3 separate regions of the Homo sapiens genome follow, and all the other regions are linked to region 2. Evidence: fine-mapped expression QTL. A gene starts in region 2. Each other region holds a variant in brackets. All regions are shown on one strand. Distances are from middle to middle.

Region 1 (4,153 bases), 21 kb after region 2:
GAAGAAATATAGCTTTACTAAGAAAGGCATTCTATGAGTATGGCTTGCAATATAAGTTGACTAAACACCCCTCAGTTCCACAAAATCATCAGACTATTCAGACTTCTTCTTTCTTTCTGCCCTGCCATTCTCGGCATGTGGTTTCCAATCCTCAGACTATTTCATAGTCCAAAATAGCTGCTGGAGCTCCAACCATCAAATCCACATTCCAGGAAAAAGAAAGGGGGAAGACGGGAAAAGGCAAGAATAGCGTATTTCCCAGATGAGCTGTTTCCCTTTAGGTATCATTCCTGCAAGTCCCAGACAACACATTTCCTTTTGTTTCACCGGCCAGAGCTCAGAGACATGGCTGTACCTAGCTGTCTGGAAAACTAAAAACGTAGTCTTTTAACTAGGTACACACTGATTATTATACAGCGGTTCTATAATTATACAGGGGTTCTATTTAGTGAAAAAGAAGGGAAAAGTCATAGTTTCTGTCCTAGCAACGTAACTGACATGTCTGCCTTTGGAGCCTGGATTGCATGGTCCATCATTTCAGTCTTTTTCTTGCCAATCCTCAACTCTCTTATTCCCTTTTCCTTGTCACCCTTGCCTGGAAAAACCCAGACTCTGCCTTCTCTGTGCCTGCCACCTGGAGCGTATGACTAGAGAAAATCACAACCATATAGACTAGTGCCACTTACAAAATCAGAGTCATCAGCCTCAGCTGGGTATATAAAACTGCCCAGCCAATCTCCAGTGTTCCTGATCAGTGTGCACTCTCTCTCCCTTCACCCATAGTGACAATTTCAAGTTTCTCTACTTTCCACAAATCTCAAATCCCCTGCCCTCAACATCACCCCAAACCCCTCACCCATGCAAACAATCTTATCTCCTACTCCACAGGAGCCACACAGAAGCCACTCTCCTGAGTTTGCCCCAGTCCTCTCCTCCTGTCACAAGAGAGGGCCAAGCCTGATGTCACGTTCTTTTTTTTTTTTTTTTGAGATGGAGTCTCACTCTGTCGTCCAGGCTGGAGTGCAATGGTACGGTCTCGGCTCACTGCAACCTCTGCCTCCCGGGTTCAAGCGATTCTCCTGCCTTAGCCTCCAGAGTAGCTGGGACTACAGGCTCTTGCCACCACGCCCAGCTAATTGCCTGATGTCACTTTCTAAGCCCATCCCTCCACTCCAGCTGGGTAGGGTCCAACCCAGAATCCAGGCCTTTTCAGGGTCCACACATTATTGAGTACTCCTATTTCCACTGATACAGCTTCACTTTTTTCTTCTGCATTGGTTCCTTCACATAAGCATGTAAATATATTAATTCTCTCCCATCTTGGGAGTAAACAAGTCTCCCTTTAACTCCCTTTTCCATTGGCTAGTACCCAATCTCTCCTCCCTTTTAGAGGCAAACTTCAGAGTTGTTTACACTCAAGATCTTATTTCCTCATCTCCCACCTTGCGATCTGATCACTGCTCTACCAACACTGCTTTCTCTAATGATCCCTATGACTCATGAGGATGAAGCTTTTCAGGTTTTGATTGATAGACAATTGGTGAACAATCCACTCCTTGAAGCTCTCTTCCCTAGGCTTCAGTGACCCACTCTCACTTTTCATGCAATTCTCCTTGGTTCCTTTGAACACTCCCTTTCTTTTGATCACCTCTTAGATATGGATGTTGCTCAGAACTGTCATTGGTCTCTTCCCTTCTCACTCTCTCTCCGTGGGCAAACTTATCCCCTCCTGGAGCTTTAA[T/G]TACCATATATTTTCCAATAATTTCTAGGAGCTTTAATTACCATATATTTTTCAATAATTTCTAAGCCCATGTTCCCATTACCAACATCCTGGTCCAGGCCACCATCATCTCCCATCTAGGTAACGGCAGTGCCCCTGCCAATCTTTCTTCCATGGTGTCCTTTTAAACCACCAATCTGGTCATTTCACTCCCTGTCTTAAAACCCGGGCTGGGCGTGGTGGCTCACGCTATAATCCCAGCACTTTGGGAGGCTGAGGTGGGCAAATCACGAGGTCAGGATTTCGAGACCAGCCTGGCCAACATGGCGAAACCCCATCTCTACTAAAAATACAAAAAATTAGCTGGGCGTGGTGGCACCTGTAATCCCAGCTACTCGGGAGGCTGAGGCAGAACAATCACTTGAAAACAGGAGGCGGAGGTTGCAGTGAGCCGAGATCACATCACTGCACTCTAGCCGGGGCAACAGAATGAGACTCTGTCTCAAAAAACAGCAACAGCAACAATAACAACAACAAACCCTTCAATGAACCTGGAGCAGAAAAAGAACATTAATGGAAACACTGGTGAAATTAAAATAAGGCTTTTGAGACAGGGTTTCTTTCTGTTGCCCAGGCTGGAGTGCAGTGGCGTGATCTCAGCTCACTGCATCTCCGCCTCCCAGGTTCAGCCGATTCCCGTGCCTCAGCCTCCCAAGTAGCTGGGATTACACGCGTGTGCCACCATACCCGGCCTAAGAGGCCCTTTAATGTAGCACAGTACCAATGTTAATTTTCTGGTACTGATAACTGTATTGTGATTATGTAAGATGTTAACATGAGGGAAAGCTGGGTAAGGGATACATAGAAACTTTCCTACAAATGTAAAATTAATTCAAAGTAAAAAGTTTAAGAGTCAAAAATTAAAACCACCACCACCAGCACCACTTCCAGTGGCTCCTCACTGCTCTCAGGACTGCTCAGCTAATCCCCATTAAGTTCAATATTGCCACCTTGCCTGACTCAGCTCCCAATGCATCCAAACCCCTTTATAAAAGTCTGAGTTCTGGACCTGTTTACATCTCTGGTCTCATCAGTCCCACTCCCCTGTTGTACAGCCAAATTCAGGCTCATTTGCACCTTGAGTTTTCAAGTCCTCACTTCTCACCTGGCTCATTGCCTTCACCTCTCAGGACCCAGGCTTGCTAGTGCTTCCTCTAGGTGCCTTCCCCCCATCCCGCCTTTGTGTTAGGAACCTCTTCTGTGTGCTCCCACAGCAGCCAATTCTCCGCCTATCGTAACTGCCTCTCCTTCACCTCCTGCTAGACCATGAACTCTTTGAGGGCACAGGTGTTATCCACAGAGACACTCAAGAAATACATACTGAAAAGAAGGAAGGAAGGACTAGAGGAAAAGAAAGAGGGGCAAGATCACACGCAAACCTACTCCAGCCCTGACATTTGCCACCCAAAGCCTTGACATGCCCAGGCCCTGAAACCCTGTCATGGTCTTTGTCTCCAGCTTCCAAAGCCCTGAAGGTTTCAGGCCCTTCCCCACCTCCGTTCCCTTCTAGCATCTTGGTTTCCCCAGGACTTCACTGTGCCAGGAGACTGGCTAGGACCTGAGCTCTCATCTGTCTGGCCAGCCTGTCCTGCAAACCCAGGCAGTCAAGGGTGGCAGTGGTGGTGCTGGGGCGCCCCAGTCCTAGCCAGTGATGCCCTGGAGAAAGGCCTAGCTATGCCTAGGGACTCTGGGAAGGGGGGATGCCCTCCCTAAGCCGTGTCCCACCTGGTAAATATTTCATCCTCAAGCTGCTCAGCTAATCCCTATTAATTTCAATACCGCCGCCTTGCCTGGCTCAGCTCCCAATGCATTATTTATCCCCTTTGTTTGTTTGTCGCTAACAGGTGGGCCCCAGTGGAGGCACTGACTGGGGACAAGCCCACTCTATCACAGTGTGGCTGTGAATTAATCATGAGGACTAATGGGAACCACCTCAGCTCCAGGCACTTCCCTAGCTGCCTCCCCCTGCCCTGGCACCCAGGGGTGGGCCAGGGCCATCTCAACTCAATTTAACTCAATTCAAACAGCACATTTTATTTACTATCTGCCTATACGTGTCAGACACTGTGCTATGCTTTGGGGATATAAGCCAAATGAAACAGACATTTCTTGCCTTCAGGGAACTTACAATCTAGTGAGGGAGACAGGCATTAAACAACTTTCAAACAAATAATTTCTTAATTACAACTGTGATTAAATGCTACAAATGGGGAGAGCAGGGTGCTGAGAAAAAGTACACGGGGAAAGGGGGACTTGATCAAGTCTAGGAGTCAGGGAAAGCATTCCTGAGGAAGCAAACTTTAAGCTGAGCTCTGAGGGATGAGGAAGAGTTAATTAGGTTGTGGGGTGGAAATATGGGGCTCTGGGGGAAAA
Region 2 (4,149 bases):
TTTTTTTTGCTAAAGATGATCACCTTAAGGAATAAATAACTCTTAGAAAACTAAGAAGAATGTTCCTTAATTTGGGAAAGAGTATATACAAACAACCTGGAGCAAATGTTATGTTTAATAGAAAAAATTTAAATGCGCCCCCCTTAAGATCTGGAAAAAGACAAGGATGCCCACGACCACACCTGCTGTTTAACCAATTACTGGAGGTACTGGAAAATGCTAAAAGAAAAAGAAATAAGGGGTATAAATTGAAAGGAGGGGATAAACTTGTCATTATTTGCAGATAACATGGTCATCTTTCTCTAAATATCTGGAATCCATTGCCACTGCTACAACCTTAGTTCAGTTTCCCAACACCTCTAACCTAGATAGTCACAACTGCCCTCTAGTCTCCTAAACTCTGGCCTGGTCCACCTTCCACAGCGCACAGTCTGCCTGTCTTTCCTTCTTCCTTTCCTTCTTCCCTTCATTCCTTCCTTTTATTATAGAAGAGGTACACATTCATTATAGAAAGTATAGAAAATATAAATTGCCAGATAAAAACAAGTGATGGAATCATTTCAGTTTAGTCCTTTCCAGAATTTTTTCTATGTATATACACATTTATAAAAAAAAGAGAGACCACTAACTTTCCCTGACCAGATTATGGAAAGCAGTTCTCCATCCCATCGCTCTATTTCATTTCCTTCCTAGCTCTTGTTACCATCAAAACTTACATTATCAATTTTATTGTCTATTTCCTTAGTGTTTCTCCTTCTCCACTAAATATAAGCTCCACCAGTAGCTATTTGTATCTCGTTCACCCACTGCATGCCCAGAGTCTAGAATAGTGCCTGGCACATACATTCCTTTATGTACTGTGATCCCTGTCTTCACAGAAATGAGTCTATTAGAGATATATATTAAACAAGTAATTACACAATTAATTAACTACAACTAGGGTCAAGTGTTTCAGGCAGCCAATTGCTCTCTCCCTTTCTGGCTCCAAGGACCATTTCCTTACCCTGTGGACAATTTCTGCTGTAAGACTGTGACTTCCTCCGGCAACTGTTTGGAGCTCAGTGGATCCATCCAGGAATCAGACCCAGGAACAGGTTTGTACCTCCAGGCCTAGTTCTCCAAAGTTTTGGGGACTAGTCAGGCTTGTGGCTACAGCTGTTGTATCCCCTTGTCTTCTCCAGGCCAGAACAGGCTACACCACTTATAGCTAACTTGCGCAAACTGTCTGCTCCTCTAGTCCCTGCTGGTATCTTTGGCAGGTCTCGACTTGGGGTCTGGCCTTCTTAATGCCTTAACAAGCCCCACCCTATCCCACAGGCTATGTGTCCTTCAAATTGACAGGCTGGTTTGCAGACTGCTGAAGCTGGGAGCTGCTTTCCTTGTCCCTTGTGCCCTTCCTCAGGACCTCCTGTCTCTCTCTTTCCAGGAAGATCCCCAGGTTTATTCCCTTGAGGGATACTTCTAAGCTGGTTCCTGCTTGGGGCTGTGTTTTGGGCTTCTTCGTAGCCCAAAGAGTGCAGCTAGCTCCTGTACTAGTGAAGTGCCACGAAGCTGGCCTCCAGGAAATCCCCACGAGGCCACAACCCACAGCTATCTCCATCAGAGGAGGTGCAAATGAGGGCCCACACCTTACTCCATTTTGGCAGCCGCCCTAGGAAGCTCTGCCTTTATTTCTTCATCTTCAAGCTTATCACAATTTGAAGTTTATCTCTTCACCTCCAAGCTTAGCACAGTGCCTAGTACATATTAGCACTTAATGAAGAGGGGGCAATTCAAATCATTAACTCATTTAATAAAAAAATAGTAAATGTCCCACGCACCGTGCTAATGTTTTACAAGGATTCTTGGTATTTCATTTACACAGGTGCCATTACAATTTCCATTCGGCAAATAAAGAAAAAGGTCCAGAGAAATTAAGTGACTTCCCAAAGTCACAAAGTTCTGGTATCTCTTCACTGCCTGAGACGCAACGGAGCATCGTAGAGGGAAAATGCCAGAAAGCAGGCAGTGCACCAATGAAAACAGGCTCGCGGGAGAACCAAAGGGTGGCAAGCTCAGCACGGCCAGTAGCTTTCACCCTCGGTTGCCAGTCGGCTTCGTTTCCTACAACACCGACCGGAAGTGTTTCTGTCGGCCGCGTTCCGAATGAGCACCGCCGGAAGTTTCTGCCGCGGCTTTGCGGGGACGGGGGAGTGGTAGTGGGGGCTGCAGCTGCCGGACCCAGGTGCGGAAGTGCGAGGGCCCAGGTGGCTGAAGGGGCCGTTAGGAACATCCAAGCGGTGGGGCACAGGCAGATCCCCGACCTGACCTGGACCACCCTTCTCCTCTTGGCCCGCCCCTTCAACTCGCCTCCGCTTAGGTCTGGATTGGCCCCGCCCCCTGACCTGAGCCTGGTCCTTCTTCAGGCACTGACCCTTGACCTCCGGTGGCTCCCCCATCTCTCAGGCGCGATGGCTACGGGCGCGGATGTACGGGACATTCTAGAACTCGGGGGTCCAGAAGGGGATGCAGCCTCTGGGACCATCAGCAAGAAGGACATTATCAACCCGGACAAGGTAGCAGGGGCACCTGAAAGCGTTGACTAGGGGAGGGTAGGGGAGTGAAGATGGGGAGGAGTGACAACGGGCAAGGGATGGGTGCTACACTTACAGTGAGTTGGGCGATAAAAGGGGTGACATAACAGGACAGGGAATATGTGTCATCCTTGATGGGAGGGAGGAGATGGGACATCGTGGGAGATGGTGGGACCAAGAGGGTATGACACCTCTAAGAGCTGAGAGGACCAGGCAAGTGTGATTTTTGCAAGATATTGTTGGGGAGAGATCAAGACATTGTAACAGTCTGAGAGTTGGTGGGATGGGGAGGGGACTGCTCTGATTTGGGCGTAGGATGGTGTTCCTGGGAGTGGGTTTCTGTGCCTTTACAGTGTGTCAGTTTGCCTGTCATTGACCCTGTAGGTGCTGCTTTGTTCAGGGATTGAGCTGGACTAAAGAATTTTCAGGAAAGGGTCTAGGTTGTGGTTCCTTTCTGTGGTTTCCTTCCTCAGAAAAAATCCAAGAAGTCCTCTGAGACACTGACTTTCAAGAGGCCCGAGGGCATGCACCGGGAAGTCTATGCCTTGCTCTACTCTGACAAGAAGCAAGTATTGGAGTCCCAAGTCCCCCAGGTTTTGGCCCCTGATTCACCTGCCATGCCCCTAACTCCTAGTTTTCTCTAACAATTTTCTCCTCCCCAGCAAGGGCTCCTGCTTGCTTAGCAGGATGCAGGAGGACCTGAAGTCTTTTGCTCCAGGACATGACTTTCTTGCTATAGGGTAGGGTAGATCAGCTCCCTGGGACAAAAAGCTCTTTAACACACCTTCTGATTCTAACCTCGCATCTCCCTAAACCTCCCTGCCAGGGATGCACCCCCACTGCTACCCAGTGACACTGGCCAGGGATACCGTACAGTGAAGGCCAAGTTGGGCTCCAAGAAGGTGCGGCCTTGGAAGTGGATGCCATTCACCAACCCGGCCCGCAAGGACGGAGCAATGTTCTTCCACTGGCGACGTGCAGCGGAGGAGGGCAAGGACTACCCCTTTGCCAGGTTCAATAAGGTAAGCTACCTTCATTCGGACACAGGCCAAGATTGCCCTCCCACTTTGAGCCATTTGTGCGAGCTCTCCAGTCTCCTAGGGTTGGTTCTGGGGGCACGCTTATGCCCAACTGTGATTACCCACTCAATCCTCGTGGCAAATGCATGCAGAGTAGGACTCTGTGGGTCTTTTCTGCCCAAGGGATCCTGTTCTTTCCCGGACCTGCTCTGGTTTTTCATGGCTTTTCTTGGTCTTTCAAATGTTGCTGTTCCTCAGAGCTGTATCCTAGGTGCTCTAGTCTTCTTGTTCTCTACTTTCTTAGTATGAACCCTGTGGCTTCAGTTACCCTCTCTACAAGTCACCAATCCAGAGCAGTGCTTCCTTCGCATCCAGTCATTTACTAATATCTCTTTCTCAATGCCCCACAGGTACCTTACATCAGGTAGGTACCCTGAACAGAGCTCATCATCTTCCCTCTGTCAGTCCCAAATCTGTTCCCCATCTCAGTGAATGGCACTATCTTCCACCCAGTTGCCCAAACCAGAAACTTGGGGGATCGTCCTTGACTTAGTCTT
Region 3 (4,153 bases), 150 kb after region 2:
CCTCCTTCCAGCTGCAGTGAGAGGCAGCTTCAATCATTCATCTTGATGTCTCTATTAAGCAGGGTTATGACCAGGACGAGACAAGAAACAAGGTCTTTTAGTGTAAAAACACAGCTCCAGGGCTTGGTCCCAGGGGACTCCTTCTTGGCACTGCTGCTGCTCCTGGGCTACTGCTGCTGGGGGGCCACTGAAGTTCCAGATTGGGCAGGAAGATTCTGCTCTGAGTTCTCTCTCTTCTCTCTTCCCTTGAGCCTCCTAAGGGCCTGCCCAAAGCTTCCATTTCCAACAGGAAAAGCAATGACTTGGCATTTGGAGGCAGCCATGAGACCTCCAGGCTGTCTTTGTGTTAGGCCTGTACCCTGACGAGGGATCACTGTCCTCATCATCATCTCACCACTCACCAGCAACGTGGAGGTAGCCGCAGCCTTAGCCACTGGGCCCTGGGCAAAATAGGCCCTCACCTGGAGTCTGGGCTCAGAGCCTAGGGATAATAAGAGTATTTCTGATTATAGAAAGACCCAAGGAGGAATCCTAACAAGACTGCACCACAAGTCCTTGTCACTCATATTAGAGAAGGTTTAGGAACCATCAGTGGACTAAGCATGTGCTCAGACCAAGACCTGGGCTCCATGGCAGTAGCTGTCAGCTCAAGGAGTCCAGTGTTTACCGACTCTCACCTACACTCATGCATGGACAGCAGCAGGTTAGCCCACTCACCTGGAGAAATGGGCTGAGGCTCCTGGAGAACCAGAATTAAAAGGCAACTACCGAGAATCCATTTGGAAGGACTCAGTGGGAGCTGTGTGTACAGGCTTACCCTTCAGAGGCATGCAGAGGGTTCCCAGGTAACTGCTCCCAAGTGTTAGTAACATCGCCGTTAAAACACGAGTCCTTTAACTGTAGAACCCACAGAGGTGAAGGTACAAAAGAGAGAGGCAGGTCACCCAACACAGTTTGCTGACTGCAGTCCTGCTAATCCTCAGGTCACCAACTGCTATTTCCCACAGTGCTGCTGCTGTCTCACTGGTCCTCATTTCTCTTTCTGTATCAAGACTTATCCTAACCATAACCTCCTCCCTGAGGTGGGCTGGCATAGAGGTAAACTTCAAGCCAGGGATCCAGGCAAACCTGGGCTCACTTCGTGATTCTTCCTCTTCTGAGCAAAGTGACTCTGGGCAAGTCATTGCTGCTCCCTGAGCTTCTGCTTCCCCTTTTGTTCCTTAAGGTCTTGAGTGAATGAGACTGTACATGTTCAGCTTAGTGTAGGACCTGGAATACAGTGGAAGAAGGTAAGGGTGGAGGAGAGAACTGGGAGTCTCGTTCCACTCTGTGCAGAGGAAGGAAGCCTCTGTGCCTAGAATGCAGGGGCGTTCTAGACTCTCCTCGCTGCAAGCTGTGGGTGGTAGGACTGTGAGCGCAGCAGGGCTGCGGAGGGAATTGCAGAGCAGCTGAGGGCAGCACAAAGTCAGAGTGAGTTAGCACTGGTCCCAGGGGTTGCACGAGCAAGGCAGGCTTTTACAGAGATATCCAGGGAATAAGAAATACCAGCAAGGAAGTTGCCCCATTAATAAATAAGAAGGTGGGAAATTAATGATGGTCTGAAAATGGCTGAGCTGCTGAACTCATTCTTTAAATCTGTCTTTAACAAGAAAAATAAAGAAAAGAGATTTGGCCAATTAGGAGGTAATGAAGACATTGTGGAAATAGCACCTGACAAAAGCGCACATGCGGGGAGGGGCTGAATGAGCTTCCAGAGGCCTGGACGCCCCTGCCCCTCACTGGACAGAAGGAGGGTGCCAGTGGAGGGGCCTCCTGCTTACAAGCAGGGAGGGTGGAGGATCGTCCAGGGCCTGGGAAGGGACGACGAAGAAACAAAGATGGGGAGACTCCAAT[C/G]TGGGCTTAATGGATGTTTTTCAAGAACCTGTTGTGAGCCTGGGCAGGATGCTCCACATTCTCTGACACTGTCTCCTGTGAAGGCTGAGAATGAAGGTGAGGAACTGGGGGATAAAAGGAGAGCAAGAATGGGGGCAGATGTAGAAATAAAGGGGACCCAGGAAAGGAGGGATCTCTGGGGGATGGGAAAAAGCAGAAAGGCCCTGCTCAGAACTACAAAAAGCTTAGGCCCCTGACATCTAGGATGGTTCCTTCTAGGGAGTTTATACCTAGAAAAAAATTAAGAGAAGGAAATAGGAGATGAGGCATGGAAAGGAAAGAGAAAGAAGTCAAGAGGAGAGACCTGGAGTCTAGAAGAGGAGAGGGCAAGGTAACACATGGAAGAAGGAAAATTGGAGTCAGTGTCTAGGCAGAGCTTAGGAAAGGAGCCAGGGTGGCTCCCACCCAGGAGGAAAAAGAGCCATTCTGCTAAGTTCCAGACAAACCACACTGCTTGCCACACTGACCTAACTCCGGTATTCCACTGAGGTCCAGGTGGCCCTCCCTGTGAGCAGAATAGCAGATTCGGTGAGGTCTTGAGTAAGGGAGTGAGAATACAGGTCCAATCTAACCCCGGCCCTACCCCTTCTTAAACACAAATGAACCTGGTCCCATGGCTAGAAAGGGGATCCAGTGCTCCCTTAGCCTTCCCCATCCTTTCCCAACCAGGGCCTACGACCTCCTGCTGCCCCTGGGTGAGGCTCCAGGGTTTGTCTCCAAGTGTGGTTCCAGAATTCAATCCAAAGTGGCTGGGCTGTAACCCTGACATGGTCTGTGGTGGAGGGGAATAGGGGGGGCCATGAAACTGCAGAAGAAAGAGAGGGCAGCTGGTGATGAATAGGGGCAGCCAGAGGCTTGTTAGAGAGGGGTGTGGAGAAGAAGGCCACTGCAGGGATGAGCCCTGGGCCTGATTTATCATCTTCACAGCTGATCTGAGCAAGAGGGGTTAAGTAGCAAGTTAATGAAATCTACAGATGCTGCTAAATGGGGGAGAGCTGGGAGCACCAAGGCTGGAGGGGATACCAGGCAGGACACAGGCAACAAGTTGGCCACCAAAGAAAGAGGTTCTTCTGGAGGGGAGAGACAGTCAACATATTCCAGCTGAGGGAGAGATCCTGTCTTAGTCTCTGAAATCCAGTTTTGGCAAACCACGGAGAGAGAAGTTAGAGATCAGAATGCAGGAAGAACCAAGGTCGCATCCCAGAGATGTCCTCAGCCAAACTTCACAGCCCCCGCTCCAATCCCAATGGGCTTCGTCAAACACTGGGCAGCCCCCGAGCCCTAGAGACAAGGAGGTGAATCAGACCAGTCTCTGCCGTCTCTTCTCCCAGACTGAGTGGTGAAACAAGTAACTACAGTTCTCTGCGATAAGTGCTGTTCAGCAACACAAAGGAGGGAGCAATTCATCCTGACAGGGGAGGGCAGGGAGGTCAGGATGACATTAAAGCAAGGCTTGGTAAGTATGGATTTCACCAGGCAGACAAGGGGAAAGGGGGATTCTGGGCAGAAGGAACAGCATGAGCCAAGGCCAGGAAAAGAACAAGGGAAGCTGAGGGGAAGGAGCTGACCTGGTGGAGATGCCTGTTCAGGCAAGGAAACGGGCAAGGGAAACCAGCCCAAAGCTGCAGGCAGGCCAGAGCAGCAGGTCCTGCAGTGGTCTGGCTGTGTAGGACAAGTGAGGCTGGGGGAGTCAAGGGGCAGCAGAATCCTTCCCGAAAGAGCTGCGGCTGCATGTCAACTGCATTCTCCACCTCCAGTGCTAGCGCAGGGCCTCCATTGTAGCGTTGCCCCAAGGATGAAAGAAAATCGTTCCTGTATAGGGTTTGACACAAGGCCTGGCATACAGTAAGTGCTGACTAAATGTAAGTGTTTTTTGGGTTTTTTTTTTGAGACGGAGTCTGGCTCTGTTGTCCAGGCTGGAGTGCAGTGGCATGATCTTGGCTCACTGAAACCTTTATCTCTCTGCAACCTTTGTCTCCCAGGTTCAAGCAGTTTCTCCTGCCTCAACCTCCTGAGTAGCTGGGACTACAGGCACACGCCACCACGCCCGGCTAATTTTTTTTTTTTTTTGTATTTTTTAGTAGAGATGGGGTTTCACCATGTTGGCCAGGCTGGTCTTGAACTCCTGACCTCAGGTGATCTGCCTGCCTCAGCCTCCCAAAGTGCTGGGATTACAGGCATGAGCCACCGCACCCAGCCTAAATGTAAGTGATTATTATTG

Which allele goes with the higher level. Positions count from the first base shown, and alleles are read on the strand shown. Sizes are in standard deviations (SD) of each study's normalised expression. Not every link is listed here.
With allele G in place of T in region 1, the expression in thyroid of the gene that starts at base 2,168 in region 2 is higher (small effect, 0.15 SD a copy in GTEx).

Evidence for each region. PIP is the estimated chance that this variant, and not a neighbour inherited with it, causes the effect.
Region 1: its variant is the best candidate, but not a certain one, in a credible set for the expression of DMAP1 in thyroid (GTEx, PIP 0.55).
Region 3: its variant is the best candidate, but not a certain one, in a credible set for the expression of DMAP1 in whole blood (TOPMed, PIP 0.53).

Annotation. Positions count from the first base shown.
Region 1 is chr1:44,232,435-44,236,587 of GRCh38, forward strand. All of the region lies in intron 8 of ERI3 (ERI1 exoribonuclease family member 3), which reads right to left. The region is part of intron 2 of ERI3-IT1 (ERI3 intronic transcript 1); the gene reads right to left. Among named protein-coding and RNA genes, the nearest start is that of ERI3-IT1, 9.8 kb to the right of the region's middle. The variant T/G (reference allele first, on the strand shown) is at 1,742.
Region 2 is chr1:44,211,304-44,215,452 of GRCh38, forward strand. It overlaps DMAP1 (DNA methyltransferase 1 associated protein 1), which reads left to right and starts at 2,168. Exons shown (of 10, transcript NM_019100.5): 1 at 2,168-2,555; 2 at 3,047-3,138; 3 at 3,400-3,595. The coding sequence starts at 2,451. RefSeq lists a silencer at 1,477-1,576 and enhancers at 1,974-2,268, 2,007-2,246, 3,012-3,513, 3,514-4,013.
Region 3 is chr1:44,365,383-44,369,535 of GRCh38, forward strand. No RefSeq gene overlaps it. Among named protein-coding and RNA genes, the nearest start is that of ERI3, 12 kb to the left of the region's middle. RefSeq lists an enhancer at 3,042-3,574. The variant C/G (reference allele first, on the strand shown) is at 1,894.